Linked DNA regions of Homo sapiens: region 2 is linked to region 1. The links come from fine-mapping of genetic effects on gene expression. A gene starts in region 1. The other region holds a variant in brackets. All regions are shown on one strand. Distances are between the middles of the regions.

Region 1 (15,763 bases):
AAAGTGCCACTCGACTTCTCCCCGATTAATGCAGCTCGAGGGCTCTTGTCGTCCTTTAATAAAACATTGTTGAAATCATTTATTTAGAGCCCCTGGTTACTAGTGGGAGAATGACCATCTTTGTGCCAAAATATAGTGTATACAGTCCACTATTTTGTAGTAGATCATTCTGTTATTTAAGAAATTGATTAAATTGATGCTTAGAAGGAAGGTATTTATGCTAATAGCACATGACTTATGTCATTCAGATAGTCAAGGGTGAACCTTTTCCACTGTCTTCCAGAGGCAATCTCTCAAATAGACTACAGTAAAGTCCAACTTTACTTCACTCACAAGGCAACGAGACCCACTGGAAACTCAACCCTCCTTAACTACATTGGCCACAAGGCATTTGCAACCTGATGCCCTCCCACAACCTTGCTTTGAGTAGCTGGGAGAAACAGGGTCAATTGGCAAGAGTTCTGATGTCCCTTGGTGTAAGAGGTCAAAACACAAATAACGCAGGCTTTTCTTTTTATGGGTTGAAAAGAGATACATGAGGTTATTTTGTTAGAGAGCCTCCACAATGAACTCAACAAGCTAACAATGCAAAGCCAAAGTTTAAAAGTAGACAAAATTTTAATACAATGTTTGAGGTTTCTGAAAGTCCTCATTGTATTTTGGGGATCTATTTTTATTTGATTCTCTGTAACATTGCTGGGATGGGGTGAGGGTGTCAATACAGATGGTGGCAAGGAACAGAGAAAGCTCACTCCCATGAGGGTTCTCCTGACTCTTCAAGGCAGAGAGATGGAAAGATTCTGTCTTCACTCACAGGGACCCCATCTGGAGAATGGCGGTGCACCCTAGATGTGTTAGAGCCTGGTGGTCCCTTAAATTTGTGGCAGTCAGGGCCAGGAGCTGTGTCCATCCTTCTAGACATTTGAAGCGTTGCTGTCCAAGTACAGAGAAGTCCTGCTACTTAGTAGAAGAACTTATTTCCCTACAGACACGTTTCCACTTTACATACGTGTATTGCTCACGTACATAGCTATATATTGTTTAAAATAAACAGGGACCTTATGTTATGTCCATTGTGATTATATACAAAAGCGTTGCTGTGTGCTCGGGTGAGCAGTGAAGCCTGAACCTCCTTCTATTTACTGTATGGTCACTGTCAGTTCAATGAACTGCCTCCTTGTTCTCGACCATTGTCCCACACTCCCTTAAACATTTGTCACTGAAGTGCCTCCAAAGACAAATAAACTGTCACTGAGAATTCAAACCTGCTAACTGGGGAAATGGGAAAGGCCGTGAGGACTCATGATTTTACATGAAATCTAGAAGGAGTTCCTCTCACTCTGGCAGAGTTCTGTTAGAAGGGTGATGCTTTTTGAGAATCCCCAGGAAAAGCCAGAGATACCTTTTCTTTCATTAATGGGACTTCCAGCCATTCTCCATGGGACATTTGAGATGGCCAAATGTCCAAAATTCCAAAAGGCTCCCCAGAGAGCGTGAGATATTACAGATGTCAACATCTGTAAAAATCCTTTCTGCTTAGAAGCAGATGGCAATATGCAATCTCATAACCACTAGCCAAAGGGTTCTAACATCTCAACAACCTCCGCTAGGTCTGTAGGGGTACCAGAGGACTCCTGGGCTCCAGTGTATAATTGTTTAAATTAAAATGGACCACCAATCAATGTTCACTTTCTTTAAGGAAGAAAACATAAAGCCTCGTGTCCTCTCTCCCCAAGAGCGAGTTGTGTTGATTTATTCCAGGCAGATGCTTTTGACAGGACCCTGTAAAATCAAGTTGTGAGTTTATTGTAGCAGTTAATTATCAGGCCTTTTCTAGTGCTAATGCCTTTTACTTCTTACTGGGGAAAACTGGGCCTTTTACTGGGACAAAGACTTAACTTTTAGTCAAGCATGTGTTAAAATAACATGAGATGGAGATGATTTAAATATATTTAAGGACAAACGCAGGAGCACTGCTAACTTGTCGTTTTGTAAAGAAAGCTGATTTCATTTACAAGTCTCTGGGAATACTCTTTGTTCGCTTCCCAAAGAAACAACGCTCTCAGCTTTGTTTTAACAATATGTTTACTCAACCATTCAGGTGACTGGAGATTCCAACCACACACCACTCTCCTGGGCTTAAGTCTGACACTACAGCTATCTTAGACTTTCTAATACTATACATATAGAAATCGTGGTTTTAGGTGCACCAAGAAGTGTCTTGAATACCTCCATAAAAGCTGGGAAAAGAGCGAGTTAGAAGCACAAGAAACCTTGAAAAGTAGGGGGGTGGGAGTGGGTATGAGGAAGTCAGAATGGGGGCATAGCTTCGTTAATTACTTTAGGCAGCAGAGAAATCTGGTTATGTTTTTTCAGCACATGTTAATATCAAATAAAGAGACACCAGATCTTGCTAATCTGTCGACCCCTCAGACAAAGTTTATTTGTGGTGACTTTTAAACTCCCGACTTGCCTTCCAATCACCGCGTTTAAAATGAAAAGCTTTAAACAAACACCAGGAATAGAAGATAAATAAACTTTTTTTCCCCCTTGCAAGTGCCTAGCTTGGCGAGGTTCAGGCTCAAATCCCTAGAGGACAGAGCGCTCTCTTTTGTGTTAATGTTTAAAAGATTTTCCAATGCCGGAGTTTATTCCTACTGCAAACATTTCTATTTACAAGGTCAAGTGTATCAGCACTCGACACAGCTTAAGAGTGTAATTATTTATCTAAGGGCGTTTGAGTGTAGATCAGTAGCTCTGGCAGGAACCCAGCCTTCAGCCACTGCTAAACAACTCCTCACAACAATATTACAAGTTCTGGTGATTGTTCCTTTCCCCTGTGTGTTTACTTTTGCTGGTCTGAATGTTTTGCAACAAAATTTTGTACTTTTTCACCAAAAGTGTGAAAATGACTTTGAAGTATTGAGCTTGCAAGCTTCCTAAAACCTATTGGTAACAGATGTTATTGGCATGTTTGATTGAGAATGGCTAGTAGCCAGAGAGGATACTCTTGGGGGTAAGGGGTGATGGGAAGGGGGATACAAAGAGGGGAGGTCTCAGGGGAAAAGGGGGAGGCGGGGCAACATGTCTGAGTTATCCTCAAATTATGTACAGGAGACACTATTTTGTGAATTCTCTCCACAAATGCAAACACCAATAGAAGCCAGTCAATTACATATTTTTGGCTGCCTCATTTACAGATGTCTAATTGTTCATTAAATTAAAGGCAGAAATAATTTCTTGTCTTGTACTGTATTTTCATTTCAGTTGATGGTTGATAGATTCTCAGTGCCCCCTCAACCCCCCTCCTCACCCATTATTGGGTTAACCACAATGTAACTCTGGAAAGTAACTACACCATATTCATTGTTTAAAACTCTTTACTGATGTACATGTTTTAATAAAACAAATAACCAAAAAAAATACACAAATCCATAGTTATTTAAAAACTTAGGATTTTTAAAAAACATGTCTATAAAAATACAACGTTTAAGGCAGTTTGGAAATGCATTTGTACATTTCTACAACGTCCATAAATTCTCTTGAAAATAAGAATGTTAACTTCAATTCTATAAAATACACTGTACATTTTAAGACTGTTCTAAATATAGCACACTTCACAATGGACTGTGGGTTTTGATTCCTGATGACAAATGGATTCTATACATTTCAGGGGGGAAAGGTGTAATATGGATGTGAGTTTAAAACTTTTAATTTCTTTTTAAAAATAAATTATTTCTGAAGCATACAATTTATAAAAATTCTATATACAAAGTACAGCAACTGGTAACAAACCCCAGTTTTAATACATTTTATATACGATGTACCAGGGTTTAGCAACCCTGATAGGAGCAGAGGCAATATACATTCTCCGCATATTTAAACATAAAATTTCTTGATGTAAAGAACAAAAATGACAAAAAAACAAACATCATAAAGAGACTTTCATACATGGCAGTGCAGAGCTTTTTTAAATAAAAAGTTGCATTGTTCAACACCATGGCAACCCCTTAGATCAGCATTTTTGGACCCTTAATCCTAAGAAATGTGCTAAGAGATCAGAGTGGTAGCAATGAAATTAAGGTCAAGGGCTCAAACTTATCCAAAACCAATTTAGGGGTTCCCTCTAAGGCAATCGCCACCCACCCTCACCCCCACGTCACTGAGAATTCTGGGCGCAGATACAAACAGTGAAAGAATGAATCGGTAAGTGGGACTTTTCTGTTTACATAGGATTATAATATCCTCACTGGCCACAATCTGTAAAAGTCGATACTGGCACTTTTTTTTGCCCCCTCAAAGGAAATATGCTAATAGACAGCCCCTTTGCAAATATAATTCCTCCTTCCCAACCCTTCAAATTGCTAAGGCCCCACTGGTCAGCACCTTCCCTTTCGAGTCCAGGACTACTGTTCTGTCCCCCACATGCTTGCTTCCTCCCGGACGTCCTGAACACTGCAGCTAGCTTTCTGGACGGCAGACGAGTTGGGAGTTTCTGGAGCTTGGAATTGGGGCGGGGGAGGAGGTCCAAGAAGTCAAGCTCCGGAGAGGAGCTTCAGGGGAAGTGCCCAGAGTCGTGGCCGGGGAACCGGCTACACCAAGTTGACTTGGAAAAAGTTTTGGGAAGTATCCCCAACCATCCCTTCTATCTGTCCCAAGCCACAGGTGCCCGGCGCGGGGTCGAGGCGAGCACGGGAGTGGGACGCGGGCTCTCCCGCAGCCAACGGCGGGGGGCGCGAGGGCTAAAAGAGCGGCCCAAGCAGCAGCAGCAAGATGGAGGCGAGTGGGGTCCAGGCGCCCCGGGGCGCCAAGCGGCCGCCGCCGCCGCTGCTCCTGCGCCCAGGCCCATAGGGCAGGTCCCCGCGGCCGCCCGATGCAGCAGCGCCGCTGCCCGGGCGCGGTGGGTGCGGGACGCCGTCGTCGTCGTCCAGCGGCTGCTCACCACCCGCGCCCCCGGTGCGCTGCTCGTCATCGTAGTCCTCATCGTAGTAGTCGTCCAGGCCCCCGTCCGAGCCGCTGCTGCCGGGGCCGTTGCCCAGCTCGGCGCCGAAGCACAGGCGGGCCATGTTCTCCTTGACCGACTCGCAGATGGGCCGCTCGAGGCCGTCGCACACGCAGTCGTTGAGCAGCGCCGCCTTGGGCATAGCCAGCATGTCCTCAATGACGGTGCGGCATTCGTCCGTGCAGCGCAGCCCGTTGAAGACTTTGCCGCAGTAGGTCAGGTAGCGGCTCAGCGCCAGGTTGCAGCGGCTGTCGCGGTCGCAGCGCCGCCGGGCCTCGGTGCAGCCCATGACCCCGCCCGCGCCGGGGCCGCCCGCGCCGCCGCCGCTCGTCCGGGGCAGGCACGGCTCAATGGCGCGCTTGGTGGACTTGCAGTTCTCGTCCTGCGCGCAGTCACAGTCCTCCAGGGCGGGCCCGCGGCGCGTGTGGTTGAGCTGAATGAGGGCCGAGATGCAGTGACTCGGGCAGCGCCAGCGCGACGAGAAAGAGGCGGCCGAGGCCGGGAAAGCGGCGGCGGCGGCCCCGGGCGCGTCGCCCCCGCCGTGCTGCGCCAGCACCGGCGCGCACGCCTCGGCGTACTGGTTGTAGGCGTAGCTGCACTCCGGCTCCCCCTGGCACTGCAGCAGCGCCTGCCAGCAGATGAGGCGGCGGCCGTGCGCCAGCCCCGATCCCCGCGGCGCCGAGCCCAGCAGCTGCAGCAGCGCCATCAGGCACAGCCAGGCGCCCGGCACTGTCCCCCCGCGGGCCTCGCCGCCGCCGCCCAGCAGCGCGGCCACCATCGCGGGCAGCGGCGGCCGCCGGGAGAGGAGGGGAAAGGAGACGAGGCGCGGGGAGCGGCGGACGCGGAGCCGGTGGAAAAGTTTGTCCAAGTCCTGCCCACTTCTTGCATGAGTGTCTTCATAAATCCATGCGCGCCGCTGGCTGATGCCCCGCTGGTGGCAGAAGGTCCCCTTTCGCTCTGGCTGCGGTGGCTTCCTGGAAATGAACAGCTGTCGAGATCTGGTCCCGCTCTCCCACCCGAGAGCCCTCCGCTCGGCCCCCGGTGGTGGCGGGAGAGGCTCACTGTCGCCCCGGGGGGGTGCGGGCCGCGGGGCCGTGGCGGGGCTGCAGGACCGCGCGGCGCGGCGGGTGCATTTTGCTCCGCGCCTGCAGATCCGTTGTGCGGCCGGCTGTCCCCGTGCCGGCTGCTCGCGCTGCGGCCGCGGCGGCTCCTTCCTCCTGGGCTCAGTGCCTCGCCGCCGCCACCGCCGCCGCGGTCTCTCGCATCGCGCCGCTTCCTGGCCCGGCGTCCGCGCGCTGCCCGCCTTCCCGCGGCCCGGCCGCCCCGCGTCCCCTCCCCCTCCGCCCGCGGCAACCCCGGCCTCCGCAGAGCTCCGGGGAGCTCTTTCCGGGAAGCGCGGGGAGAACAAGAAAGTCGGCGCTGCCGGAGAGCGGCTCCCTGGCTTCACTCGGCGGCAGCTTCTCGGGTGACCAAGAGCCCGGGGAGCGGATCCGCTGAGCCCGGCTGCAGACTCGTTAGCAGCGAGGCTTTAAATACAAAAGTGGGCCGGGAGCCCCCGCGTGGTGCCGCGGTGCCCCCTCATTATGCATGCATGGAAAAGCAAACAAACAAAAACATTAGCAACGCTCCTCCGGCTCGCCGAGCCCCGGCCCCGCGCGCTCCGAGCCTGCCCGCTTTCTCCTTTCTCCACTCTCTTTCGCCCTTTGCTCGGCCCCCTTTCCCGGCTTTTCGAGATGCTATTGGTCCTGCCTGTTGTTGTTGAAAGTTTTTTTTTTTTTTTTTACGAGCCGCTGGAGTGGGGTTGCGGAGTGGGGGAGGGCGGGAGGGTGGTGGGCAGCTCACATTCAGGCATTCAGGGCTTGAAAGGAACGGCTTAGGGAGCCTGACGGAGGCCCGGAGCTCCTCCTACTCTTAAGGAGGCTCGGATATGCAGCCCCAGCTCGCGCACAGAACCAGCGGGCAGGGCTTAGGGGCAGCTGTTTGCATCCGGCTCAGCCACGGGCCTTTTTTGTTTGTTTTTTTTTTCTTTTTTTTTTTTTTTGTAGTTTTATTAATTCTCGCTGGCCCCCATCTGTGCTTTCGACTGGATTCAGAACTCAGTTTATCTTCCAGGCTCCCTGTCTTTGGGTCTTGATCACCACAGAGGGGAAGGGGAGAATCCAGAGATAAAATGTGAGACTGAAACTGTTTTAAAGAAGCATACAAGAAAGAAGCACACACTTTATTAGGGAGATGTTGATGAGATGCTTACAACCCGCCCGCCACCCCCCAGCCCCAGCTAGGCCATCTGGCAGGTACCGCCCGTGCGCCAGGCATCGTTTTCAAATTGCAAGACCGAAATCCAATCAACCGAAATAATTTCTTAGGAAGATAAGCTTGCAACACGTGCAATAATGAAAAAATTTAACTAGCATTAAAAATATTCAGGAATGTCGAGCAATTACCACCTGGCCGCAGTCACAGGACAGAAGACGGAATAAATGGGCACGCACCAAAGGTTTATATTAAAGTGTAAGTTTCAGCCCCTCAGTATATTTAAGGGAGGCTGCTCTGCAGAGGAAACCTCTGCCTTCTCGGCGAGGGAGTTTCCGAGCTACCTTAACTGGGGCGCAACGCAGCCTTCCGCCACCAGAGGCAGCGGGCGTCTGCGGCCTGTCAAAAACTGGCGCTTTTTTCCTCCCCTTTCCGTGGAGAGACTATCAACTCCATCTGTCACAAAAATTAAGGCTAAATCTCCTCTCCAGAAGCAGAGGGAGCCGGGGCTCCGACGCGCTCAGCGTCGGGCTGTCTGCCTCTCCCTAGAGGCCAAGTGAATTTGAAATGGCAAAAGTCACAGCCGGAGGCCCAGCACTAGGAGATTCCTCCGGCTGCGGGAAATCTTCCTGTACCTGCTGAAGCTGCTGCGTTCCTCAGAGGCGCTTGGTCTGCCGTGGGAAGCTGCACCTCTGCAGTCCCCAAAACCAAAATCAAACCTTAAAAGAGCCAGACTGAGGTAAGGCGGACCGTCTTGCTCTGATTTGAGTATTGGTAGACAAACAGCAATATAAATCGATACTAAAAAAATCCAGAAAGGCTGCAACTTCATGGCACATCAAAACAACCATATCCCTGGCTCTCTGTCTCTTTTTTTTTCTCTATTATTTGGAGTTGTCCTCTCAGTCCGGCCTGGAGGACTTGGACAACTCAGACACCTTCTCTGTGTCTGGGATCCCTCCACAGGTAAGGTTCGAAGCCAATTAGACAATTGAAAAATCCCCTCTTGTCTTTAAAGCTTTGTTATTTTAGGCCCATAAGGAACAAAGTCAGCACTCGGTTTCATCTTTACTTGAATTTTTGTTGAGTTCCTTTAGAATAGTGGGACCCAAACCTTAGCACGTATCCTAAAACTCAGATCCCTAGTTTTTGGAGTTTCTGATTTAGTTGGACTGGTGGGTCCCAAGAATATGCATTTCTAACAAGTTCTCAGGGAATGCTGCTCTCAAACTTTGAGAATCACTGCTCTCAAAGTTAACATGTTTCTTTTCTGTGTTGTTGCTGTGTTTTTGGTAACACTTGCCCCACCTTGGCCTTGATACAGCTCTCAGTGGGGTTTAAGGGAGGCCCAAGAGCTCTGCATGCTTTGGGGACTTCTGCATCCCAGTCACATAGCATTAGCATTGCAAGCCTGAGGGGTTCTCAGCCCACTTTTTACTGTGTCATTTCCATTCACCACAATAGGCTATACTGTCTTCTATCTTAAAAAAACATAATAGTAAAACCTTCTAGACTCCACGTCCCTATTCAGTCACTATCCCATTTTCATGAAAACTTGAAAATCTTGCTTTTACTCACTTTCCCCACTCGATTCACTCTACATAATCGAGTTCCATTCGATTATGTAGAGTCGCTAGTGACCAAAACCTTGCTCTACCTGATTGTCACTTCTCAGTCCTCAGCTTATATGACGTTTCAGCAGCATTGGCCATGACTGATCACCTCCTTTTCAAAGCGCTTTCTAAAATTTTGGCTTCCGAAACTCCATACTCCCCTGTTCTCTCATTTTACTGCCTGGTGGCTCCTTCTGTCTCTCAACTCCTTAGGTAACCACATCTAGTGCCTTGATTTTAAATTGCATCTCCTAATTTGATGTTTTCAATCTCAGTCTTTCTCTGATCTCCATATGTATATATTCACTTGGTTCCAAGGACATCTCAAACTTAAGCTTCCCCAAGAGCACTTCTAAATTTCCATCCCCAAAACCTATTTGTTTACTGGGCTTACTGTGGTAGATACCCTCCAAAATTGGTCTCCATCACTTTTCTCCCTACCTTTACATCCTTACTACTCAGATCAAAAGGCAGAGTATAATCCCCTTCCCCTTGAGTCTTGGGTAGGCCTTACTGACTTTGACCAATAGGACATAGTGAAAGTGACTGACATTCTGGGGCCTCCAAGGCTAGATCACAAGAAGCCTTGCAGCTTCTACTCGGGCCTTGTATTAGTCCGTTTTCACACTGCTGATAAAGATATACCCAAGATTGGGCAATTTACAAAAGAAAGAGGTTTACTGGACTTAGGGTTCCACATGGCTGGGGAGGCCTCACAATTATGGTGGAAGGCAAGGAGGAGCAAATCACATCTTACATGGATGGCAGCAGGCAACGAGAGGGCTTGTGCAGAGAAACTCCTGTTTTTAAAACCATCATATCTCATGAGACCCATTCACTGTCATGAAAACAGCATGGGAAAGATACACCCCCATGATTCAGTCATCTCCCACTGGGTCCCTCCCACAATATGTGGGAATTATGGGAGCTACAAGATGAGATTTGGGTGGGAACACAGAGCCAAACCTTATCAGGCCTCTTGGAATACTTGCTCTGCAGAAGCCAGTCACCACGTAAGACATCTGGACCACCTTCAGACTCGCATGCTGTGAGGAAGCCCATGCTTACTATGTGTAGAGGATACATGGAGAAGGAAAGAGATGCCTGGCCAGCTCCCTGCTGTTTCAGCCATGTGAGTGAAGAAGGCACCAGACTTGTGAGTGGAGACACTAACTTGGATGTCCAGCCCAGCTGAACCTTCAGGTGACTCCAGCTCTAGCTGCCATCCTACTGAAGACACATGAGAGAGACCCCAAGCCAGGGTCAAGATCAGCGTGAAGCAAGTGAGGCATTTTGGTGCAAAATGTAAGGAGGCATTGACCTTCATAATTGGGCTCCAAGACTCCAAGAGTGAGTGCCTCCTTAAATTTTGTACTTTAGACACTACACTCACCTTTCTCTAGTTCTGGTCTTGCCTCAAGCAAGAAGAGCAGAGCTTAGCTCAGTCAACCCAAAGAATCCTGAGAAATAACAAAAAAATATTCTTTTAAGCCACTCAGTTTTGAGATGGTTTGTTATGCAACAATAGAGCATTAGAACTTTTCTTCCTGTCCAATTGCTTAGGTGAAAGATGCTAGTATCTGCCTGAATTCTTTCCTTTTCTTCACATTCTACATTCAATTAATGGCTCATCATAGGTGTCAATAAAATATTTGATAAGTTGAATGAATGAAGAATCAGCACTTCTTGTCTTCTAAATCAGCCAACTCAGAACTAGTCCAAATCATTTCTACTACAAAGAACAGTAATAAAGACCCTGAGAGATTAAAGAATACAGAATAGTTCTGAAGTTTTAAAATATAAAATTATATTTCCAAAAGGGTTGACTGGTTCAGTGAAAGAACAAAAACCTCAATCAACAAATACCAATTACCTTTTGGTGCTTTAGCAACATAACCCAGATAAAGTAGGAGGAGATAGACTTCTGCCCTCAGAGGACTCAACAATATGTCACTTGGCCATTTGGAGTTGTCAGAGGCTCTAACCACTTAGCAGAAGTCTTAAGTCACAGACACCCTGTATTAGTGTGTTCTCACACTACTATAAAGACTGGGTAATTTATTTAAAAAATAGGTTTAATCTGCTCATGGTTCAGAAGGCTTTATAGGCTTCTGCCTCTGGGGAGGCCTCAGGAAGCTTACAATCATGGCTGAAGGCAAGTGGAAGCAAGCACTTCTTCACATGGCTGGCAGGAGAGAGAGAGCAAAGGAGAGGGGTGCTACACATTTTCAAACAGCCAGATCTTTTGAGAACTCACTCTCACAAGAACAGTATGGGGGAACTCCCTCCATCCCTTCCCCATGATCCAATCACCTCCCACCAGGTCCCTCCTCCAACACTGGAGATTATAATTCAACATGAGATTTAGGTGGGGACACAGAGCCAAACCATATCACATTCACTCTCTTGTTTTCTTTATTTACTTGCATTCTTAAAACCAGAAAATATTAATACTTCAGTTTGTGGCAGATACTGCATGGAAACCAAGCACCATCTACTCTAGAATTCTACATTAGACTTTGTATCCTGAAGGTTTACCTCATTCTTCACAAAAGTCTTCCCTTTGTCTGTTGCCTTCTTAAGAAGAATTAATTCTTGGGAACAAGATAGAAGGATGGGAACCTCATGTAGAAGGAAATCCCTTTCATGCACAGTAAAGCAGGGTCATTCTCCCAGCTAATGATCTGGAGCCTCCTCCTGAACCCCAGCTTTGCTTATATCTTCGGCAAGGACCATCTTCGCATCTTTGAGCCCTATTAATTCCATCTAAGAAAAATGTTGTTCACATTCACCCTCCCTGTCTTCTCATGTCCTGGTTTCTTCAAGGTTTTCTTCATTGCTGAATACCAGGTCTTTCCCAACTCTCCTCCAAACCAGGGATTGTAAACCAGAGAAGCATCTCTAAAGGACTCGGGAGCTTTTTCAAAATACATATGCCTGTGCCAACTTCATTACACTTGAATTCTTCCCCAGGGGCCAAGGAATGTGTACTATGGAAAAAAACAAACACACACACAATGGCATATTTCTGCCTCAACCACTCAACATCAGTGGTTGCTAGATTTTGAGATTTCAAAGATCCGTTTATTTTCAAAAAAAATCTGGAATATCTTTTAAAAAAAGATGCCAACTTTTTATTTTATCAAGCATTAACAAACAAACAAACCTACTACTACCATCTGTTAACACCAGTGTCTTATTAAATAAAGAGGATTTGAAACCCCAAAGGCAGAGAAAGAATAACCAGAGAATACAGGCGAGTTGAATACATTTAGATATTTAAAGGACTTACTATATTGTCCTATTTTTTTTTTTTTCATTTTAACTGAATTTACGACACAGGGGAAACTTCTTCAGAAACTTTTGCATCTTCAGACAGCATTTTGGAATAACTACTCTAAAGCAATCCTCCATGCTGATGTTAAATGAGTCGGATGAAATCACTACTCCACTTAAAAATTTATAGTGACTCCTCAGGAAAAAGTCCAAGGTCACTACCAGTGTTACAGCAGTTTGAGGTCTGGTGCAGTGGCTCATTCCTGTAATTCCAGAACTTTGAGAGGCCTAGGCAAGAAGATCACTAGAGCCAGGAGTTTGAGGCCAGCCTAGGCAACATCGCGAGACCCCATCTCTACCAAAGAACACCCACAAAAATTAGCCAGACATGGTGATGCGTGCCTATAATTCTAGCTACTCAGGAGGCTGTGGAGGGAGGACAAAAATTAGCCAGACATGGTGATGCGTGCCTATAATTCTAGCTACTCAGGAGGCTGGGGAGGGAGGATCACTTGAGCCCAGGAGGTTAAGGCTACAGTGAGCTATGATCACCACTGCACTCCAGCCTGGATGACAGAGCAAGACCCTGTCTCAAAAAAAAAAACAAAAAAAAAAACGCAGTTCGAAAGACCCATTCCAAATACTTAACCCCATCTATTCTTGCCTGTGCCCCCAAACACAAACGTATATGTGCACACACACATGCACTCACATACACATACATATGATGCATGTACTCACATACATATATGGATGTACACGTGCACACTCATGCAGGCACACACAGGCACAACATATACCCATGCATGCACTCACGCATACTCATTCGTGCACACACATACACACAAACTGGAATTTCTCTTCTGAGTATCCACCATGGCATCTCCATCCTGCCCTTCTCCGGGGACTTTGGTATGTTGGCCTCTTTAGCAGAGAAATGCTTCTGTCCCCCAGCTTTAAGGGATTACAAGAGAAAGTCTCCCTTTTGACGCTCTACTCCTGGATAATACATGTAAAGTCTCACCGCCCCCTTTCTATGTGCACATACTCTTTGTAACTGTAGTCAACGCTGAGAAATCCATGTTTGTTGCTTAAGCCACCCAGTCTATGATATTCTGTTATAGCAGCCCAAACTAAGATAGTGGATGAAAAAGACAAATTTTTCTAGTAAACAAAGAGCTCTTAGAAATTTACAGCAAAAGGGCCAGGCACGGTGACTCACGCCTGTAATCCCACCACTTTGGGAGGCTGAGGCAGACGGATCACTTGAGGTCAGGAGTTCGAGACCAGCCTGGCCAACATGGCGAAACCCCATCTTTACTAAAAAAAAGAAAAAATACGAAAATTAGCCAGGCTTGGTGGCAGGTGCCTGTAATCCCAGCTACTCGGGAGGCTGAAGCAGGAGGATTGCTTGAACCCGGGAGGTGGAGGTTGCAGTGAGCTGAGATTTTGCCACACCTCAGCCTGGGCGATAGAGCAAGACTCAGTCTCAAAACAAAACAAAACAAAACAAAACAAAACAAAACAAAACAAAAAAAAACAGGAAAAGGACAAACCAAGGGAAAATGGGTGAAAGATAGAAACAGACAATTCACAGAAGCATAAATCCAAATTGTCAGCAAACAAGTGAAAAAATGTTTAAATTAACTAGTAGTTAGATGAAAAGAAATTAGAAAACAATGAGATATTACTTTAACACTCCATAGACCGACTAAAATGTGAAAGCACTTTGACAGCCAGTTCTTATAAAGATACCTTCAAAAGTTGCTTGTGTAAATGTGAAATGTTGGATTCTTTTTTGGCAATACCTTTAAAATGTAAAATACAAATACTGTTTGGCCCAACCCATTCCTGAGAATCTTTCCAATAATAATAAATACTGATAAGGAAGGACACTATCTGCATTCTAGCCATTCCAATAGAAATAATTACTTTTTTCCTCCAAAAGTTCTAGCAAAAGTTTTGGAACCTCAATTGATCTGGGCCATGTGCCCATGTACCTTAGTGAAAGAGATGAGAAAGAGAGAGAGAGAAAGAGAGAGAGAGAGAGAAAAAGAGAGAGAGCACTTCCTGAAGGAAAACCAACGCTGTCATGATGAGAAAAATCAGCCGCTACACCAGGGCTCCACAAATGTGATCCAGTGCTTTGTAGTGGTCCCTGATGAGATGGACCACTCAGCTCATTAGAGCAGGCATTTGAATACTTTTATAGCTATCTCATAGAGTAATATGATGTCAGTTGAAGCTAATAATAAAATTTGAGGCTTCTGTTTTGTAGGTATTCTTTTTTCTAGTAACTTCAAAAATTTTGTTTTACAAACTATCTATGATAGACAAAAAAATTCTGCAGTTTCAGAACAGACAATTTGAGAAGCACTGTGAAATATATACATTAAAATACAAAAAAGAAATGGATACTGGTTATTTTCTTTGGTTTTAGAGGTAAATAAGTTGTCTGGCACAGGAACATAAGGATTTGGCGCTGTGTAAAGATTAATAAAAATGGAAGGAACAAACTTCTAATTCTTCAGAGAACATGGATAACAACTCCAAGATGCAAAATGACAACACGATCCCGCTTTCACTGATGAGTGTATCAACAGAGACAGAGCAGCTGTTTAACATCATCAGCCTACTGTTCTCTATGGAGCAGAAAACACACCCCCTCATCATTGCTTTGGAACTGGGGAGATCAAGATCCTGGCTCAGTTTCAATATCTAATAACATGAGGAAATACCCACAAAATTAGTAGGAGCTCCAATTATCAGGAAACTCGACTTTCATACTTTTTGAAAAGAGATATTAATGAAATAGAGACTTAAACCCATTGGCAAGATACAACATAGAACATTTGAGGCACAACATGCTTCAACCTCAGTGGATTGCAGTTAGCCAGTTAGCAGTACAACGATATTTCTACCAAGAGCATTTTTTCCCCCAAGAGAGTACCTTGGGCACATTTGGGCATTACCTACTAAATTCTCCAATAATTGGGGCCGATTCTACAATATGCGTAGTTAGTATGTTTCAAAGTCGTGCTAGGCCTTATTTCCAAATCTAGCTTCTCACTACTGAAATTAAGAAGAAACTTTTGGCTGGGTGCTGTGGCTCATGCATGTAATCCCAGCACTTTGGGTGGCCGAGGCAGGCAGATCACGAGGTCAGGAGATCAAGACCATCCTGGCCAACATGGTGAAACCCCATCTCTACTAAAAGTACAAAAATTAGCTGGGCGTAGTGGTGCATGCCTGTAATCCCAGCTACTCAGGAGGCTGAGGCAAGAGAAGCACTTGAACCAGGGAGTCTGAAGTTGCAGTGAGCTAAGATGAAACCACTGCACTCCATCCAGCCTGGTAATAGAGCAAAACTCTGTCTCAAAAAAAAAAAAAAAAAAAGAAACTTTTAAATAATTTAACTCTTTCATAAATCTAGATAAATTGTTTTCTAAATAAAAATAACATAGTTTGTAAGTGAACTTATCAAATGCCTCAAAAGTCTGCTTTTTATCTTGTGAGGATTTATATAAAGACAATAGACATCCCAAAAAAACCTATCCACAGGAAAAAAAAAATCTAGCAACAAGCTTGTACAAAATTTGTAAGTTTCAGGTTAATGCTT
Region 2 (15,763 bases), 320 kb after region 1:
CTTGGCTCACTGCAACCTCTGCCTCCTGAGTTCAAGTGATTCTGCTGCCTCAGCCTCCCTAGTAGCTGGGTTTACAGGTACCCGCCACCACGCCTGGCTAATTTTTGTATTTTTAGTAGAGACAGGGTTTCACCATGTTGGTCAGGCTGGTCTTGAACTCCTGACCTCAGGTGATCTGCCCGCTTCAGCCTCCCAAAGTGCTGGGATTGCAGGCATGAGCCACCCCATCCGGCCAGAAGTTAATTTTTTTTTTTTTTTTTTTTTTTGAGACAGAGTATCACTCTGTTGCCCAGGCTGGAGTGCAATGGCATGATCTCAGCTCACTGCAATCTCCACCTCTCGGGTTCAAGCAATTCTCCTGCCTCAGCCTCCCGAGTAGCTGGGACTACAGGCGCCACCACGCCTGGCTAATTTTTGTATTTTTAGTAGAGACGGGGTTTCACCATATTGGCCAGGCTGGTCTCAAACTCCTGGCCTTGTGATCCACCCACCTGGGCCTCCCAAAGTACTAGGATTACAAGCATGAGCCACCATGCCCAGCCACAAGTTAATATTTTTAATGCAAAAAAGCATGACGCAATATAATTGTGTCACTCACCACATGGAAGATTAGTTTAAAACATGAATTTGTAGGTGTATGATCTGGGAGGGGATACAGGTTTTTAATTGTATAATAGATATTATTATCTTTCAATCATTTAGACTAATAATTTCACTTGGATATGAACCCAAGGGGTACAGTTGAAGGCCGTTTGTGAAGGCCATGGTTGGAGTGACCCCCTGATCCCCATAAAGGCTGGATTCTGCATTATATGAGCTTATCTCTTCAAAAGCAAACCCCTCCTCAACTTTTCAAATTACCCCTGTGAGGTTGAAGATGCTTAGACATAATCCAGTCCCAATGATTGACACCAGCAGAAGTACCTACGGGGAATGAAAACACAAAATGTATTCAGTTTGATTCCTGTATGCATCCCTGTCCCTCTCTCATGCTGGCCATGACTAGATTTCTAACTTAATATTTCCAAAATAATGAAGGTCTTAGTGGGGATGGAACAATGATGAGGAGGAGAAAAGGAAAAGTCCAGGTAACAAAGGTCATTCTGGCTCCTAAGTGACCAGCAGGAAGGAAGTTCTCCCATCTTCTTCTGATCCTTCCAGGCTCCCTGCTGAAGGCGTCCTGTAGGAAAATGTCACTTAAGAAGTTGAAGCACAAGCAATACCGACGTTTGCCAGACTTCCCACTCAGCTTCCAACTGCAAGCAATTGACCATTCGCGTGAACAACGACAGGGCTTCCTAGGCTTCCCAGGCTTCTTAGCGTGGCCTCTTATGTTGATGAGATTCCTCCACTCATAAGTCTCTAGGGAAAGCAGGGCCCCTTCCTCCTACCAAGATGAAAAAGTCTTGCTATTCATCTCCCCAACCCTCCCAGCAGCTAGGACATGGCCACATGCTTTAAAGGTGGTCGACAAACAGTACCCACCCAGCACTTTGAATCTTGAAGGAGTAACATCCAGGCTAAAGTTCAATTAAAGTTACTCACAGTGGCCTCAGAGATACAAGCAGTGCTGTGGAGAAGGGCCACTGCTGGCAATGCCAGAGGGCAAGCTTACGGAGGCCGTCCCTCCAGTGGGACTGTGGCTCTGTGTCCTTGCACCCCACAGAGGCCCCTTCTTCAGCCTTCCTCTCAAGTGCATGATTCCCTGATAACCTTTACATTAATATTCCTTCTCTTTAAATTAAACACAGTACACTTCTGTTGTTTGCAACCAAGAATACAGACACAGATACAAATAAAATACAAATTATGTTGGAATCAGCTGATTTCCTGCCCCTTTTTTGTTGGCATCAAGAGGGGCCACATGTCACATGTCTTGCTTTAGTGCAAGAAATGGGAGTAGAAATGACCATGTGTCACTTCTGGGCAGAAGTTTTGAGAACCAGCCTACAGTTTGCTCTGTCTCGTTTCCTTCTGCCACAGATCACCATGTTTCAGATACACCAGGGATCAGCCAATTTGCTCTGTAAAAGGTCAGAAAGTAAAGATTATCTTCATTGTGGGCCATACTGCCTCTATTATGACAACTTAATCCTGTTGTGGTGGTGTGAAAACGGTACATAAACAAATAACCATGTCTATCTTTCAATAAAACCTGATTAACAAAGACAATAGCAGGCCAGATTCTGCCACAGCTCACAATTTCCCAACCCTGAAATTGAGAGAGTTCTGTCCACCTCAGTCCTAGAGTAAAGAGATAAGCAGCAGAAACTCAGCAACTTCCAACACACATATAGCAGGAGTGAAAAATCCAACTTTGTGTTTGAAAATCACTAAGCTTTGGGGGTCATTTGTTACCACAATGTAACTCAGCCTATGCTGACTGATACATGAGTACGAAAAGATAATCTCCATGCAAGTAAACAAAAATTGATTTTTGTATGATTTGATGAGGTTAGATCTACAAGAGGTGGGGAAAACTTCTTTACCTCTCAAGGTCAAAAAGCAAAAATAAATTCTTTTTCTTTCTGTGATACAGTTTCACATCAACCACTGGTGCCTGTAACCCCATGACCCTTATCATTACAGAGCAGCAGTTTTGTTCTGTCTCATGAACACTGGAACAGAAGCCCAGAGGACTGGACTCCAGTTCTCAACTCACTTCGAATTAGTTGTTTAACTCTGAACTGCTCACATTCCACTCCCAGTCTCAATTTCCGCATGTGCAAAACAAAAAGCTGTGCCAGCCCACAGCATCGTCTTCAACCTCTCCTACTTAGGGCTTTCCTAAGAGCACTGTTTACTGATGACTGACAGCAACAAGAGGTTCAAAAATGACAATGAGTAATCAAAAGCCTCTTTTGAAATGGATCCCGTTTGCTGGGATGTGGATGTTGAGCAAAGACACAGCTCTTCGGAAAGTGGGGAACATTTTCCAGGCCCACAAGAAGCAGCGTGATAGAGCCAGTGGAACAGAGCCGTGGGGATGAAACTGAGTTTTGTGCCCATGTTTCTCTGTATCCCTACTGAAAATTTAACACTCAGCCGTTTCATCACTCTTGGCCTCGGGAAGAAATTCCTTCATGCTCCTTGGTTGTTTCCAATGAATGTTCTCATCTCAGATCAAGGCTAAATGCAGAAAAGGGGGACCACTCACTTCTTTCTTTACTTTGATGCCCACAAGGGGTTGAGGAGCTTCTCAGAGCCAACAGTGCGTGTGCCAGACCCAGCCCAGCATCTGGTGCCCGTGGGATCTGTGCATGTGAGATCCCAATTTAATCCCCATGCCAGAGGCTTAATCCCTGAACTCTGAATCAGTCCTTGGCAGAGAGAAGGCTCTTGGCCGACTTGTAAATTTCCATCCTTCAAGCCACCTCAGGCCAATCAACAGCTCAACAACCTCCTGCGTTCCTCAGGGAGCCTCTACACAGCCCCACCCGCACCTCCAGGTTGAGACACTCAGTCATGGAAGGGCGGAAGAGAGGGGGCGTCAAAACCCTCATCTGCTCCAAAACTCTGTCCTAGCCACCTGGCCCCTGACTGAAAAAAAATTGGCCAAACCCTAGTCTGCAGTATTCTCTACCACAGGCAATCTTGGGTTACATCAACCCATCAGTAGCTCTGAAAATATTGTCAGGCTACTCTTCAGGCTAAGTAACAGGGAGCAAGACCCTAAAGATTATGGGACAAGTTGAATGAGTATGTGCCTGTGTCTGCACATGGCAGATTATGTGCATGAATTAGGAATGGAGCCTGCGACAAGAAAGCTGAAAAAACTTGAAGATGTAACAGGTTTGAGCAAAGCATTTTAAGGGAGGATCTGGAAAGGCAGTAAGCAGATAGTAGGGGAATACTGAGCCCTGGGGAGAAAAAAAAACAAAAACCTCTATGATCACTGATATTATTATTTGAGTAGGCAAAGTATTTTCACATACATATTCTCTCATTTAACTTCCCTTCAGAAACCACAAGACGTATATGAAAATGTAAACTTTCTATCAGAGGAACCCATGCTCTGAAACGGCTCACCCAAGGTGACTTGTGAATGGGACTAGGGCCCATTTCTTCTATATCTTTTGTTTTGTTTTGTTTTGTTGTGAGACAGAGTCTTACTCTGTCACCCAGGCTGGAGTGCAGTGGTGCTATCTCGGCTCACTCTAACCTCCACCTCCCGTGTTCAAGCGATTCTCCTGCCTCAGGGGCCCGAGTAGCTGGGACTACAGGCATGTGCCACCACGCCGGGCTAATTTTAGTATTTTTCGTAGAGACAGGATTTCACCATGTTTGTCAGGCTGGTCTCGAACTCCTACCTCAGGTGATCCACCTGCCTCGGCCTACCAAAGTGCTGGGATTGCAGGCGTGAGCCACCACACTCGGCCCCATTTCTTCTACTTCTGAGTCCAGTGCTCTTTTTCCCGGGACACTGAGACTTAGTTCAAGATTTGCCTGGGGCTAAACACACACCAGAGGTGGACATGCCCTATGACAAAGGAACACATGGCCTCTCAGTGCCTGATTGGGAACCCAGCTGCCAGCCGTCACAGTGCCAAGATGGGGCAAGGGGAGGGCAGGCTGGAGCCTGGTACCCGCTCATCCCCAGCACTCCTGCCACACCTGGAACCACATCAAGCCCCGACAGCCTCAAACGCAGTGCCCTGGGGCCTTGACTTCATTTGTTTCTCACTTCGTATCAACAGTCAAGATTTAAAATTATAATAATAATCAAAATCATTGAGTCCCTCTGATGGCAGGACACCTGATGTACACTGGGCATTTTACATGAGATATTTAAAATAATTCTAACCACCCTTTGGGGCTGTTACTGCATCTTCTTTTTGTAAGAACACTGAGGCTCAGAGAGGTTAAGTGGTTTGCCTAAAGTCCCCCTGGGGACCTGCTGAGGATGCAGGCCAGCTGTGACCAGTGCTCCTCACAGCAGCACCACCACACCCCAGGGCCAACTGAGACACAAACATCAGTGTCCACAGGGGCCACGGAGGGAGGGAAAATTGTTACCAGAAAAAAGAGAGAGCACAACACCCACATCACTGCATAGACAGGGCTGCGACCTGGCCACAGTAACCTGGAAAACCTTGCAGCTGTGGGAGAATGGTGAGGAAGGAAGTTAGGCTTTCCTTCCTGAACCCCAAACCTTTCCTCGCCTCCTTTTCTCTGTTTACGAAATCTGTCTTTGATTACTAATCAACAGCATTTTCATTATTAACATAACTCTCTAGTACACGTGAACCATGCTATAATTAAACAGAATTTATGTTCAGTAGATTTATAAAAGTCAAAGAATAATGGAAGAGAGATTTGAGTGTGAAAGTGTGAAACGCAAACAATAGGAGAGAAAGTTGTAAAGCAAAACATATGACATTCCTTCTGCATTTTTCTCTTGATTCCCAAGCCTTAAACCAACATTATGTGCATGAAAAAATCATGATTGATTCTGGAAAATATTTTTTTAGGGCTCATTATTTTCCATCGAATCTCTTATGGGTAAGTTTTAAAATTTAGAATAAAAACCTAAATCCTTTGAATTTTCCATATAGCTTTTATTTTTTACCTCCAGCCCTAATCAAGTAGAACACATTATGTTTCCCCTATAGAAAAAGGTCTCTCTCATTCTTAAGCAGATTTGAAAGAAATTGTAAACCAATCCAGTCTCAACACTGCCGATACATCTGGCAAGGCAATCAGAGTCAACACAGACCACAGAAGCCCAGGCCGGCGCTGGATGTGAGCTGCAAGGATGAGGATGAGGACAAGAAGGGGAGGAATTTCACGTGCTTTTCTTTGTACTTGCCCAGAGTGAATGCCCGTCTCCTCCACTCTACTCTGAGCCCGAAGGGAGATCTCAGACACACAAAAGAGAATTCGACACTAGGAAAGTTTCTGTGTATTTCTTAGCAGTATTTTTCTAAGCATACGTTATGACGTACACCCTGGGTAGTGACTGTCTCCCCACGCGTGTGTGTGTGTGTGTGTGCCCACACACTCATCCTGACCACGGACTCTCCCCTCCTTTCACGACATCAACCTGCTGTGCCCCATTATCTCTGGCCTTTGTGGCTTAGAAGGTCAGAGACACTGTTCCCTGGATAAGATCCAGAAAAGGAAGGAAGCGGAAACAAAAATGTTTTTGCAGTGAAGTGACCTGATTACACGCAGAGTGACTATTTCTAAGCCATCCTATAACTACCCCCATTCAGCACTGGAACCAAGCCACAAAAGCAGCAGAGGCCTCCCCCAGTGCCGTTACTGGCTTGGTGAAAACTGCGACTGCAAATGACAAAGCTGGTCTTTATTCCTGAGTGATTGTGAGTGCGGTGGGGATGAAGAGTTTGGAGGGATAGGGACAGCTTTGCGGTGGCCAAGGGGCTTCCCCTCAGGTGAGTGCAGTTAAGGACAACTGTGGGTTCTGCACCAAAACATCAGGGTTGAAGTCTCGGTTTCACCATCTGCAAGCTGCATGACGTTAGATACGATTCATTAAAGCCTCTATGTCTCAGTATTCTTATCTGTAAAATGGGTGATTATGAATTGGTTGTAATGAAGTAAGTGAAGTGCCAGAAGGTAACAGTAGCTATTGTTATTGTATGGGGTCCTTACTAAGACCCACAACGCCCTTACCTCTCCCTCCCTCCAGAACATACGATTTTGCTCACAGGGTTCATCCTGGTCACTGATCTATTTCTCAAACATTCTATTTCTCACCAGGTCTCCATCCACCTTATCCCTCTTCCCTGGAGCGTATCCGTGGTCTCCTCAGAGGCCTTGTTAGCTCACCAACACCACCCCCACCCCAAAATGCTCAGCACTGCATTATCCTGAGGGTTTCCCACAGAACACTGGTCATTGTCTGAAACTGTTCACTTTAAAAAAAAAATACTCATTTATGCTCAGTATCTCCCACTTAGAGTGACCTACTTATCCCAGTTTGCCCGGGGCTCTCCCAGTTTGGGCAGGAAGCCCCTCGGTCCAGAGCAATCCAGGACAGCGGCTCACCCCAGAGCCCAGGAGAAGGCCAGGGCAGAGGCCACCTTCTTCACTCCGTGTCTTCAGCACTAGAGAAGGCCCGACTCACAGCAGGAGCCCAAAACACAGGGAATGGAGGAAGAAAGGCATTAATATTTTTCTAAGAATTGTAATTAAATCAGTCTATCCAATCATGAGAGACTCACACCTCCTCTGATTTCTAATCTACAAAGCAGAGAGAATAAAAGTGGAAGTTACCAGGGTTGTAGATTTTTTTAGCTAGACAGAGCTTTGCTGGAAGGATGAGCCCAGACCACGCCTCTTACCCTACCGGGGTGGGGGAAATTAAGGTCCACAGCCTGATGGTCATTGCTAAGGTCATCAGCTGGTATGTAGCAGAAACAAGATCTCTCAGGATACAACTTACTGAGAAGTATTGTATGAACTGTAAAGCAATACTTTGACATTAAGGTATTTACATTATTCTTTACTTGTAAATTTATGATCATTTTATCTCAGCAGGAATCCAGAACAAACTAGCCTTCATCTAAAGAATTATGATTTATCTAGAACTCTTGAGTTATATTAAACTGAAGCACTACCCCCATCCAAGTTCCTAATCAATTCAAATTGCTTAAATGTTTACATATTTTCAATTCCTTTTTTATAAACTCAGCTTAACCACTTCCTAAGACATTGCCACTTTTTGTCACATGT[A/G]GTTCTTTGAAACCAAAGAAGTAGCAACTAAAGATAAAATCGTCAATGGACAAAAATCACCGATACCCACAGTCAGCAAGGTCTCAATGCAAATTTGTTGGCTGCTTAAAAGGACCAGAAGCACTAGACAAAAGCATACACTCCCAATATGAGTTTTCAAGGTTTTGTTATCTGATATTTTATATGGTCAGCCAGATCAACAGTGGTCCTTGTTCACATAGAGTATCTCAGATGACAGATGGATATAAATTCATCCCCATTCATGCTAAGATCTAAATTCTATACATGCAGATAAAAGAAAGATATCTTGGAAGAAATTTTAACCTGATGTGAAATATAGCACTTATTAACCATCATTCTAATCATCTCTAGTAGATATTTAGACAGCATTTAGCAATTTGCAATAGGAGTTCAGAAATTATCTTGTTTGAACTCAAATGCAAATCAGTGGGAGCAAAATGATGAGAACTTATGAATGCAAAGAAGGAAACAACAGACCCTGTAATTAGTCAATTAGTTGACTAATTACGGAAGTTTTCATCGCTAGGAAGTACCTAAGTCATCGGAGATTATTTTCATTTCTAATCAACCTTCAAGTGACACTGAAGTTCCTAATACATTGTTTATTTATTTATTTTAAACTGAGACAGAGTCTCGCTCTGTTTCCAGGGCTGGAGTGCAATGTCCAATGACCCTCCTTGAAGGTGGAGGGTGGGAGGAGGGAGAGGAGCAGGAAAGATAACTATTGGGTACTGGGCTTAATTCTTCGGTGATGAAATAATCTGTATATCAGACCCTCATTATATGAGTTTACCTATGTAACAAACCTTTCAATGTACCCCAAAACCTAAAATAAAAGTTAAAAACAAACAAAAAAGAAATGGTACAACCATTGTGGAAAACAGTACGGTGGTTTCTCATACGGTTAAAAATTGAGTTGCCATATGATATGGAAGTGCTACTTCTGGGTATATCCCCAAAAGAATAGAAAGCAGGGCCTCAAAGAGATATCTGTACACCCACGTTCATGGCAGCATTCTTCGCAATAGCCGAAACATGGAAGCAATCCAAGCGTGCACTGACAGATGAATAGATAAGCAAAATGCAGTGTAGATATACCACAATGGAATATTGTATTAACCAGTCTTAAAAGGAAGGAAATTCTGACACAGCTTATAGCATAGATGAACCTAAATGAAAAGAACCAGTCACAGAAAGCAAATCCAGTATGCTTCCATTTATACCTGGTACCTAGAAGAGTTAAAATCAGAGAGGCAGAAAGGAGAATGGCGGTCGCTAGGGGCTTGAAGCAGGGACAAATGGGGAGTTACTATTTCATGAGTGTGGAGTTTCTGTTTTACACGATGAAAAGTGTCCTGAAGATGGATGGAGGTAATGGATGCACAACTTGATGAATGTGTTTAATACCACTGGATTCTACACTTAAAAATGGTTAGGAGGGCCAATTTTATGTTATATGTATTCTTCCACAATAAAAAAAATAACAAATTAAAGAAAAAGCAGAGAGGCAGAGTTGACTAACTACAGGAGTTTTCATAGCTGGGAAGTACCTAAGTCATCAGAAATGATTTTCATTTCTAATCAACCTTCAAGTGACACTGAAGTTCCTAATACTTTATTTATTTATTTGTTTGTTTGTTTGTTTGTTTTTTAATTGAGATGGAGTCTCGCTCTGTCACCCAGGCTGGAGTGCAACGCCCACTGCCCGGGTTCAAGCAATTCTCTTGCCTAAGCATCCCTAGTAGCTGGGACCACAGGCATGCGCCACCACGCCCGGCTAATTTTTTTGTATTTTTAGTAGAGATGGGGTTTTGCCAGGCTGGTCTCAAACTCCTGACCTCAGGTGATCCACCCCCCTCGGCCTCCCAATGTGCTGGGATGAGCCACTGCTCCTGGCCTGAAGTTCCTAATACTTTAAATTACTCTTCCCCTACTGATGATCTGTAAATAAGGTATTTTAAAAGAACAAAGTTCACTGTGTGAAAAAAAAATTGAGGAAATAAGCTGACTTTCCCAAGTTTACCCAGCTACAATGGTGGGGAGTGGAATCTGAAGTCAAGCGTGTGTGTAGTACACAAATGTGCCTTTTATTTTCCAATTTTCTATTATCAGCACTGCTTTGGGAAGAAGATAGAGGAAAGAGAAGAAAAGACCCTCAGACCAATGTATACTTCTTTCACAAAACACACACCCAATGCAAATTACACAGTATAGTTAGCTGAGGGGCATAATTTGTCACACAAATAAACAAACACTATTTGGTTCCGTCTGTGGCTACTGCAGTTATAATGAAAATCTAAAAACAACTGTAATGCTTCTAACCATAAAATTATAAGGCAAGAAAATGGATTTAGATAACTGTGAGAGCCTTAATTGTATGTTTGTAAACTCACAGACAAAGCTTTTACTCAAATTTAGCTCCAGCTCAAATAGCACACCCAAATCACACTTTCTATTTAGCCCTTCTCCTGCCGTATAGATCTAAGACCCCAGGCATTAGAAAACTCTGTCTTTACAAAAGCATGTGTATTGGGCGTGGAGAGGAGGGAGGAAATATAAGCAGCTTAATGTGGCAAAGGTAGCTGGAGAGATGGGATCCATGAAAGAAAGCACTCCGGGACACCTTAACTGCATTTGTTCAATTACACCTGATCAAAGAATTCCATCAGAACTCCAGTGTCAGAACTACAAGGAGCCAGAGATCCAATGTCCTCATTTTAAAGACATTCAGAGATGGCAAATAATTTCTTGGGCTCACACAGAAATTTATATGGCTCAAGTTCCCATAGGCCCATGCTGAGCTTCCTCGCACTTCACCTCAGCCAATGCTTGGTGACTATAGCAGCATCCGTTCCTGGCCAACCCAGTAGCAAGTTGTAGGGAGCCAGCCCTGTCTGTTTAGGGCTCCAGTCTCTTTCCCTCCTCCAACGGGCTGGGTGCAGAGAGGAGAGCCAGCCAGCCCCCTCCATTCCTCCTCCCAGCCCCTAATTCTAGTCTGGCACCAGCCCAGAAACTGGGGCAGCAGCAAACGTCCTGACAAACGTCCTGCCCTGGAGGAGCTGAGGACCACAGGCAGGAGACAAACGAGAACATGGCAGAGGGGGATGTGCTGTCCAGACACTAGAGCAGGAGGGAGGCAGGAGAATGGGTGGAGTGGTGATTTTGGTAAGGGAAGAGCACTAAGCGTCTTGGATGTGACATTTGAGCAAAGACTTAAATGATGAAATGGGAGAGAGTCGATGACTGGGGTAAGAACATTCCAGAGAGAGGAAATGGCAGGATAGAAAGGCGAGCAAATTCCTAAATGATGGTTGAACAACTCTGTGAATGAATATTCTAAAACCATCTAATTGCATACTTTCAGTGAGTAAACTGTGGAGTATAGGAATTACATGTCAATAAAGTTGTTACCAAAAAAATTGAAAGTAAATTTTAAACAACAGATAAAGGCACTCATGGTTTTTCAGGTGCATATTTTTACAAACCCTGTCTACACTCTTTTTGGACAACACTAGGGAAAATTACATAAGGAGTGACATAGGTCCTTCTCACTATCCTTTCCCTCTTCCTTGTATTATCCTGCGCCCCAGCGTCTTCCTAAGAGTCTGAGGTTAACCTGTGGGTAGATTCCTGGGCTGCTGCTGGCATCATGCATGTTGGTCCCTACTGCCCCATAACTTGATTAGCAGCTTGACAGAGGCCTGTTATGCCTTAATCAGTTGTCACTATCCTTGGCCAAAGGGCCTGAATCTGAAGGAGAGGAAGACACACTTAAAAGTTGGAACAGTAGGCCGGGTGCAGTGGCTCACGCCTGTAATCCCAGCACTTTGGGAAGCAAAGGCGGGCAGATCATCTGAGGTCAGAAGTTCAAAACCAGCCTGGCCAACATAGTGAAACCCTGTCTCTACTAAAAATACAAAAATGAGCCAGCCATGGTGGCAGGCACCTGTAGTCCCAGCTACTTGGGAGGCTGAGGCAGGAGAATTGCTTGAACCCAGGAGGCGGAGGTTGCAGTGAGCCAGATCATGCCATTGCATTTCAGCCTGGGCGACAGAGCGCGACTCCATCTCAAAAAAAAAAAAAAAGCTGAAACTGTAAAATCACCTTCTGTGGGCTGTTTAATTACAACTCCTAGAAACCCACATGCCACAATTAAGAGAGTGTGGTCTAAAGATTGGGATTTTTAAGTGCCCCAGCTGGCCAATAGGACAGAAATGTTTAATTCAGGGCAACTTTCCTGTTACCCTGAACCAAACCGAGATAACTGACTGCCTTCTCTTTTCAGGCATTCATTTACCAGAAGAACAGGGAATGAGCAAAAGAAATTCTCAAAGAATTTTTCTTTTGATACTTACCCACACTTCCTGTGCTCTGAGTCAGACCACAGAAATTGACAAATATGTGCAGAACATCTTAGAGGAAAAATGAGAAATGAAGACAGATGTCAAAACTATGTAGAAACACAGCCGGCCATCTTCTTAAAGACTCACTTTAACACGAATAACATTTAACTCCATCGTCAACAAAACCGAACTTCCTAAAAAATAATTCAGCATGGATTTCTATGAGCCATGTTGACTGAAGACAGATAACCTGGCAGATGTGTTGACTCCAACAAAACAAGGCGAATGTTCTCAGGTTTTGGGTATTGTGTCTCTCTGAGGTGATAACCACAGAGCGAGTTTCTCTGCTCTTGGTGTGAAGCAGTTTCAAATTGTTGAACCCCAGGGTTGCTGAAAGAGAAAAGCAAGTTATTTCAATGCAAGAAGAAACAAATGGCAGTCTCAAGCATGCACAGCTCAACTCCCATAAACGATGAAGGTAGCCAAGGTTAGTGAGCCCCATGGGGAGTGCTGAGGGGTGAGCTTACCACAAAAAAATGCAGGCCCCAGCTTGAAATGTCTATAAAACTAATTGAAACAAAAAAAGTACAGGTTTTTCTGAGCACACCAGGAAGAGTCTCAATCAGACAACCGTTGTCCACTGGAGACTCTCACAGGCTGTGGTGGTCTCTGGACAGCTGCTGCGGAAGGGTTGTCCCTTATTTCTGAATTAAATGAGGGAGGGCGGGGAATAATATGTTGAGATCCAGGAGGAGGTTATTTAGCAAGAGAAAAATATACTGGCAATGCTCATTTAAGGAAATTTGCTACACACATTTATCTTGTTTTGGTGCTGCTGTTGTTGTTTTGGTTGTTAAAATCATAGTTTCTCACACAGGAACTGAAAAAATAATGACTAATTGCAACTTGTGTTACAACATATTGTTCCCCCAGGTCAGTGCATGTTGAGCAAAGGTATGTGGCCAAGTTTTATTTGGGCTAGAAGAATCCAAGCCCTCCACATAATCAAGAGAGAAGCCACCGTGTGACCCAAATGAACGTAGGAGCAACAAACCTACAAGGCTTCACCTTCAGCTATTTCTCTCTCTCTTTGCAGAAGAAGGAAGCCAGAACCAAGTTAGAATCAACTTGTCTACCTTGTACAATATAAAGACAATGGTAATTAAGAACATTATTAAAGAGGAGATATCCAAAGTGTCAGGAAAAAAAAAGCACCTAATAGATTTTTTGAGCATTTCTATTCCTACCTTATATTTGCTATGAATTTCCATCACTCCTCTTCATAGTGACATCTAAATGCTTCCATTACAAGAACTATATTTGTTTCTTGTAAAATACCTTTTACCTCTGGATTCTTCAGAATTATGGCATGCAGTGTGCTCATAAACACTATCTGATCTCTTCCAAACACAGTTGATCTCTCCTGTAAAACATGCATGACCAAAACTTATTTTGCTGGGAAGCCATTCTGCTAACACAAACTCTCTTCTCAAACATTGCACCTTGAATTTGAGGACAACTTTAGGAGCTAATATGGTTTGGACATGTGTCCCCTCCAAACCCCATGTTGATATGTGACCTCCAATGTCAGAAGTTGGCCTGATAGGTGGTGTTTGGGTCATTGGAGTAGATCCCTCATGAATTGCTTGGTACTGCCCTTGTGGTAATGAGTGAGTCCTCACTCTATTAGTTCACAGGAGAGCTGGTTGTTTAAAAGAATCTGACACCCCTCCTCTCTCTCTCTTGCTTCCTCTCCCTCTCTCTCTCCCTCATCATGTGATGTGCCTGCTGCCCCTTTTCCTTCTTCTGTGAGAAAAATCTTCCTAAGGTCTCACCAGAAGCTGAATAGATGCTGGTGCCAGACTTGTACAATCTGAAGAACTGTGAGTCAAATCAACCTCTTTCCTTTATAAATTACCCACTCTCAGGTATTCTTTACAGCAATGCAAAAATGGACTCCACGGGAACTTTTTTGGAGATCCTATCAGATGAGTACTTCCCAAGCTCTGTTTAACTAGGGTAATCATATAATTTAATGTCTAAACAAATACTTGAAGAATAAAAGGGGTGCTATAAATAATGATTCCTGAACAACTGGTATAAACTGGGACACATGAACATACGGTCGCTCTGTCCCATAACATTTTCCCACTCTATTTTCTGTTATCCATGATCCCTTATCATCTAGGAGATTTGGAAAGCCTCTACTTCTTGCTATTTATTTTGAGAAAAAATTAATTATGTTGAATATACTTTTTTACTCTGTGAACACTCCTCCAGAGACATCACTGTTTCTCCCATGAGGAGGTATATGTGTCCCCACTGAATCTGATCAACTGAAAATCACTCTACTGGGCAGAAATTTGCCTGTTCTTTGGCATTCTCGCAGGTAAATATGCTGCTGTAGAGAAGAGAGGAAGTCACACTATGTCTCTGCCCTGTTGAGCATGAGTTGTTCATAGAGTAAAAGGTCACTTTAGGGCAGGGAATTTAAAAGATGGCTTCATTGCAAACATCGAGTCCAAACTGAATCTAGAAAAATTTCAAATATTTGGAAGGTTTCAATGAGTTCACACTCAATGACTGACCATCAGACAAATCCATCACTGCTGTCCTAGGCCTAGTTACTAAGTCAGCTACACCAAGTCTAATGGAAATATAATCAAGGCTAGTAAAAATGTCCTACATAATGTGGGAGACAACTGCACTTCAATTACTTGGTTATTTGAAAAGGCAGTGATAAAAAGGCATTTATGTGATAGAATAGGAATAATATTTCCACAGTGCAGCCCTGGGAGAAATAAAGGGTCAAACACCACCATGTCCATGAGTCTGGTCTTGTCTGGAGCTGTCACTGACAGGGCATGGAGTCACAGGACTGCTCCGTTTTGCTATGCATCATGCCCTGGAATGGATGGAATGGAGTTGTCCTAGATAGAGTTGCCTTTGGCAAAGGGGAAAAAATGTGTATGCAATGGTGTGCTCCAACAGTTTAGTAAGAGGGATTGCTCTGCTGCAGAGCCCTTAACAAGATATACCAAAGTTGTTAATATACATTTAACAGAATGGAACTGGCAGGTGATGGAGAGATTTTAGTGACCCACAGCACACAGGATAGAAGCTCTAAGTCATTGACTTGAGGGTGCTGAAGAAGCCATTTAAACAGTTTCTAGTCTACTCATTCATCTTTGATCATAACATTGCCAAATAAATGATCATCCTAATCACCTCTATTCTAGAATCAGCAGCTTTCAGTGTTGTGTTGGATAACCGAACCTGGTCACAATTTTTGTCTGAACACCATTTCTGGAACATACTTCGTCATAAGAATAATGTATGATGGTTGAGGAGGAGAAAAGAGGTAAGGCAGTTGGGCCTTCAGGAAGCCCCAGAACCTGGAGAGAGGGCAGGTGGCCATGTAAGAGAAAAGTATTTTCTATCCTAAAAACAACCACCAGGGCTCAGGGCACACTCAGAAGCACTGGCAACCTGTATTTGGAAAACCTCAATGGAAAACCTCAGGGCCACTTTTCAGGTGTTGGAAAGGCAGGGAAGTTGATCGCTTGGAGGCTTCCCTGTCACCCATGTCTACAGATGCCTCTGAAATTTACAAGAGAAGATCTAGTTTGGCTAATGTTCCTTTTGGAGCAGTATCTTGGAGTGTTCTTTCATCTACAGCAAGTGAATAGACAGGAGTGTAT

The links.
Region 2: its variant is fine-mapped to the expression of GAS1 in whole blood (TOPMed, PIP above 0.99). The same link has a PIP of 0.9 or more in blood mononuclear cells.

Annotation. Positions count from the first base shown.
Region 1 is chr9:86,941,000-86,956,762 of GRCh38, forward strand. It overlaps GAS1 (growth arrest specific 1), which reads right to left and starts at 6,507. Exons shown (of 1, transcript NM_002048.3): 1 at 3,363-6,507. The coding sequence starts at 5,780. The coding sequence ends at 4,743. It overlaps GAS1RR (GAS1 adjacent regulatory RNA), which reads left to right and starts at 7,699. Exons shown (of 7, transcript NR_049794.1): 1 at 7,699-7,994; 2 at 9,868-10,000. RefSeq lists an enhancer at 1-422 and silencers at 5,498-5,567, 5,638-5,717.
Region 2 is chr9:87,264,569-87,280,331 of GRCh38, forward strand. LOC105376126 (a long non-coding RNA gene) reads right to left here. Exons shown (of 15, transcript XR_007061642.1): 4 at 13,310-13,485; 5 at 13,121-13,198; 6 at 12,313-12,452; 7 at 12,075-12,131; 8 at 862-924. Among named protein-coding and RNA genes, the nearest start is that of LINC02872, 120 kb to the left of the region's middle. RefSeq lists an enhancer at 11,829-13,028. The variant A/G (reference allele first, on the strand shown) is at 7,699.